Regions from separate parts of the Homo sapiens genome. Here region 2 is linked to region 1. The links come from fine-mapping of genetic effects on gene expression. Tissue or cell type: whole blood. Region 1 holds a variant in brackets; the other region holds the start of a gene. All regions are shown on one strand. Distances are from middle to middle.

The links. PIP is the estimated chance that this variant, and not a neighbour inherited with it, causes the effect.
Region 2: it holds the start of TMC4, and the variant in region 1 is fine-mapped to the expression of TMC4 in whole blood (Lepik 2017, PIP 0.95).

What each region holds. Positions count from the first base shown.
Region 1 is chr19:54,134,983-54,137,735 of GRCh38, reverse strand. No RefSeq gene overlaps it. Among named protein-coding and RNA genes, the nearest start is that of CNOT3, 1.4 kb to the left of the region's middle. The variant C/AC (reference allele first, on the strand shown) is at 1,316.
Region 2 is chr19:54,171,725-54,174,224 of GRCh38, reverse strand. It overlaps TMC4 (transmembrane channel like 4), which reads left to right and starts at 1,065. Exons shown (of 15, transcript NM_144686.4): 1 at 1,065-1,186; 2 at 2,142-2,355. The coding sequence starts at 1,108. It overlaps MBOAT7 (membrane bound acylglycerophosphatidylinositol O-acyltransferase MBOAT7), which reads left to right. Exons shown (of 8, transcript NM_024298.5): 8 at 1-810. The coding sequence ends at 181. RefSeq lists enhancers at 1-125, 126-942.

The DNA.
Region 1 (2,753 bases):
CTCTCTTCTCGTCTCTGGCGCCGACCCGCCCCCGAGTCCCGAATATAGGCCAGTCATTGCTCCCGCTGAACGTCGCTCCTGACCCTTGGAGGCTTTCTATTGGTTCCTGGCAGGGATGCGCCCTGCCCCCTTTCGCGGATTGGGTGATCGCTCCAAGGCGCGGCGTTCGATTGGCCTCCCGCGCAGGCTGCTAGGATTGGCTCAGGTTTTCCTCCCCGCTCCTCCTCCTCCTCCCGCCTCAGGGCACAACACGCCAGCGCGAGGACCCGAACGTCAATCAAGAGACCTGTGTCGTGCTGATTGGATGTATCCGCCCCCCTCTCTTAAAACAATTGGTCTGGGGGAGGAGCTACGACAGTCCAGGGGCGGGAAGTCGTCCGTCAAGTTTAGAGCTCTTTTTAATTGGTTGCGGGGGCATATTCTGCCTTGAAGTCATTGGTTGGTCCTGGAAGTGGGTGGGGAAAGCGGAGGAAGGCATGGAGTGTGGGCGTTAGGGGCCGCGTACCTAATGGGAGACAGACAGGTGCCTTTAAAGCGGGGGCCGAGCCGAAGTCATCTGCCAATCAAAACAGCCACAGGGCCAAGTGGGAGGAGCTGGGCAAGAAAGTCCACCCCTTTTTCTTCGTTGGCCCTAAAAGTTATCATTCATGCTAGTTGGACCAATAGCGTGGCGAGTGGGCGGTAGCTGCTCGTAGAGCGTGTGAAAGAGGGTGTATGTAGCTGGCAGAAGTGGGACTTGGTCGCAACCGTTGCGTCCCGGCCAGGTAAGCAGCTTCCCTCTCAGCTGCCTCGTCTTTCTCCAAGTGCCTCTATGTTGGCACATCTCTGAAATTCATTATTTGCTGAGTGAAAGAAGAAAGGGACCAGAGACACTGCTTTAAGTCTCTGGCACCGTGCATAGCAGAATTGGTTGGGAAGCGTGAGGCATGGAGTTTTTGTCCTGCCCCTGCCTGGTTAGGCGACCAGATGGTGGGACAGTCATTCTCCTCTGCGTCTCCGCTTCCTTAGTGTGTTGAGGACGCTGCAGAAGGTACAGAGGAGACGGGTGGCTCCCTAATGCCTGCTCGTTTCAGGTCTCAGCTCTGTTGTCTTCTTGGAGAGAAAACTTCCCTGACCTCCCTCCCGGGCGGAGCGCTCCTGCGCGCCTTGTTCGTTAGGATTTATTTTTGTACGTCTACCGTCATTTTCGTAATTATTCGGTTTCCCTGTCTGGATTTTGCATCTCCAGCACTTAGCACGCAGGAAGTAGTCAGTAACCATTTGTCAAAGGAATAGATGAATGAATGTGAGGAATGACTTGTGATTGAAAACTTAA[C/AC]TAGACACTGAGACTTCCACGAACTGGGAGGCATTTGCCCAGGGTCACACAACCGAGATGGGAAGCCAGATTCGCCCCTTCCTGTCTAGGTGGTGGAAAGTAAGATAAATCCCAGGGAGAGGTGAACGTGAAGGAGGATGGAGCCGTTCAGCACCACCCGCATCAGAATGGTCTGAGGCAAGGGGGAGGAGGAATGCTTGCGAAAATGCATATTCGTAGGCCCACACACAGACAACGGGAATGAAGCCTAGAGTTATTGTTCTAGAGCTTTGCTATTCAAACTGTGGCCCCTGGACAAAGTATCGCTTCTCAGACATCTCCGGAATCACCTAGGAATGTGTTAAAATGCAAATTCTGCTTTTCTAACAAGTGCCGCAGTCCACGGTCCGCAGTTCACTTTGCACACCGCGGATCTAGCGATGACTTTCCAACTTGGCTGCACATCAGAGTCACCTGAGGAACTTGTTGTTATTGTTGTTGTTGTTGAGACGAAGACTTGCTCTTGTCCCCCAGGCTGGAGAGCAGTGGCACAATCTAGGCTCACTGCAGCCTCTGCCTCCCGGGGTTCAAGTGATTCTCCCGCCTCAGCCTCCCGAGTAGCTGGGATTACAGGCGCCCGCCACCACGCCCGACTAATTTTTGTATTTTTAGTAGAGACGGGGTTTCACCATGTTGGCCAGGCTGGTGTCGAACTCCTGACCTCAGGTGATCCGCTCGCCTCAGTCTCCCAAAGTGCTGGGATTACAGGCGTGAGCCACTGCGCCTGGCCTACCTGAGGAACTTTAAAAAAAAAAAATTTTTTTTAAATTAGAGGCCAGGCCGGGCCGGGAGAATCACTTGAACCCGGGAGGCAGAGGCTGCAGTGAGCCTAGATTGCGCCATTGCACCTGTAATCCCAGCACTCTCAGAGGCCGAGGTGGGCGGATCACCTGAGGTAGGGAGTTCAAAACCAGCCTGGCCAACATGGTGAAACCCCGTCTCTACTAAAAATACAAAAATTAGCTGGGCATGGTGGCATGTGCCTGTAATCCCAGCTACTCGGGAGGCTGAGGCGGGAGAATCACTTGAACCTGGGAGGCAGAGGTTGCAGTGACCCGAGATTGCGCCATTGCACTCCAGCCTGGGTGACAGAGCAAGACGCCGTCTCAAAAAATAAAAATAAAAAATAAAAAAGTCCAGATACCCAGGCTTACACTGGACCAACTAAAACGATCTTGAGGTGGGAGCCAGTGTCTCTCTCACCCAGGCTGGAGTGCAGGGGCGCCATCTCGGCTCACTGCAACCTCTGCCTCCCAGGTTCAAGCCATTCTCCCACCTCAGCCTCCCAAGTAGCTGGGATTACAGGCGTGAGCCACCGCGCCCAGCGTAAGAGCCGCTTACAGAGTCTTCTTTTCTAGAGCAGTGCTTCTGAAATGTGGCCTTGGGTCAGGCACGTACC
Region 2 (2,500 bases), 37 kb before region 1:
CTTCGTGCTGCTCTCCTTGGCCGACACCCTTCGGTACTGGGCCTCCATCTACTTCTGTATCCACTTCCTGGCCCTGGCAGCCCTGGGGCTGGGGCTGGCTTTAGGTGGGGGCAGCCCCAGCCGGCGGAAGGCAGCATCCCAGCCCACCAGCCTTGCCCCGGAGAAGCTCCGGGAGGAGTAAGCTGTCACGACGCTCCCTCTGCCAGCTGGTCCCGGGAATTCTGTGAACCAGGCTGCTGTCTCCTCCCCAGAAAGAGTCCTTACCTTGGAGAGGGTCCTGGAGAGAATTTCCTCTTCCCCAGCTAAATACCCTGCCTGCAACTGAAGCAGACCCGGGGGTGTCCTCCCTGCCCTCTGCCCAGAGGCCACCTCCACTCCTACAAAATCAAAGTATTGTCCAGACAAGAGTCACTGGCCCCTGCTCCAGCTTCTGGGTATCCAGAGAGCACTGCACTTCCCCAAAACGGAAGGGGCCCCTGGGCAGTGGGTTTTGGGCAAATTCCCTTTCTTTGCATCCACAATGTGGGGTCGGAGCTTGGGGGCAGGTCCTGGGAGTGGGAAGCCTCTTCCTTGTGTCTTTCGCTCCACTTTTAGCTCATCGCACCAATATTGCAGACTTGGAAGGAAGCATAAGCTTCCCATTTCACAAAGGGGAAACTGAGGTGCGGGTGCGCGGGCCTGGGGACGGCCGTCCCATGGCTTCCATCTGAGCCACCTCGGGACCCCAGCACTCCTGGCGCCCTCTTCTCATCGCTTGGCCTATGACAGGTCACCGTGTGTAAATCTTTCCCAATAAAGTGTTGCACAAAGGCATCGTGTCCGTGCAGGTATCTGGGTGATAAACGGTGGGAAGGACTTAGTCCACCAAGTCCCAGGGTGAGGTACAGCCCCCCCGCCCAGCCCAGGAACCAAACTGTGAGGCCCGGGGCACCACGGGGACTTCAGCTCCCAGGAGACCTTTCGCATCAGCGGCCCTGAGAAACCACAGGAAGTGTACCTTACTCCCTCCGGGCCACCTGCTGGCCAGGTACACACCTGCCCCTGGCCCCTCCCTTACCTGGGGCAGTGTCTGCCTGGTGGCCACTAGAGACAGCCCAGCCTGGGGCCATGGAAGAAAACCCGACCTTGGAATCAGAAGCCTGGGGCTCCTCTAGGGAGTGGCTGGCCCCCCGGGAGGCCAGAGGAGGTAGGGAATGCCAGGAGAAGCTCAGATCCATCCGACCTTCAGGCTAGGTGGGAGTCCTGCTGGAGGAGGAAAGGGGAGGCCTGGCCTCCTGAGTCTGAGGGCTAAAGAGAGAAGGTTCCACTTCCTGATATTATGGGGGAGAAGGGAACTGGAGGCTGGAACTCCAGGGTCTGAGGAGGAGGAGCCTGGAGAACCAGGCTAGTCTGGGAGGAGGGGAGGGCTAAGGGCTGGGAGTTTGGGTGTCTTGGGAATAGGAGAGGCTGGGTTCCCACACTCCTGAGCTAGAGGGAAAAGGAAGTTAAAGCCTGGACTCCACTGCCCTGGAGTAGGAGGGTTCCACGCTTGGGGATGGAGTTGAGGGCTGTGGACCCCTGGGTCCAGGGGAAGTAGAGGCTGGCACCCGGACTCCTGGGCCTGAGGGAGGAGGGGCTGGGAACCTGGTTTCCTGGTCTGAGGGAGGAGGGGCTGGGTGCCTGGATTCCTATGTCTGAGGGAGGAGGAGCCGGGGGCCTGGACTCCTGGGTCTGAGGGAGGAGGGGCCGGGGGCCTGTTCTCCTGGGTCTGAGGGAGGAGGAGCCGGGGGCCTGGACTCCTGGGTCTGAGGGAGGAGGCGCCGGGGGCCTGTTCTCCTGGGTCTGAGGGAGGAGGAGCCGGGGGCCTGGACTCCTGGGTCTGAGGGAGGAGGAGCCGGGGGCCTGGACTCCTGGGTCTGAGGGAGGAGGAGCCGGGGGCCTGGACTCCTGGGTCTGAGGGAGGAGGAGCCGGGGGCCTGGACTCCTGGGTCTGAGGGAGGAGGAGCCGGGGGCCTGGACTCCTGGGTCTGAGGGAGGAGGAGCCGGGGGCCTGGACTCCTGGGTCTGAGGGAGGAGGGGCCGGGGACCTGGTTTCCTGGTCTGAGGGAGGAGGAATTAGGGCCCAGACTCCCGGGTCTTCCCAGCCCCCTGCTCCTCCCCAGGCCCATCGCTGTCTTCTGTGCTGAACGAGCTGCCCAGTGCTGCCACCCTTCGGTACCGAGACCCTGGGGTGCTGCCTTGGGGGGCGCTGGAGGAGGAGGAGGAGGATGGAGGAAGGAGCAGAAAGGCCTTCACAGAAGTCACCCAGACAGAGCTGCAGGACCCTCACCCTTCCCGGGAACTGCCCTGGCCCATGCAGGCCAGACGGGCACACAGGTGAGGCCCCACCTCCAGCTGGGACCCGCACAGCCCGGACCGGGCCCTTCTCCCATACCCTGGACTCGGTCTCCTCCCTCTGTCCTCTGCCGCTCCTGGCTTCTGGGGCCTCTCTCTGCCCCGCTCAGAGCTGCCTCTCTTGGTT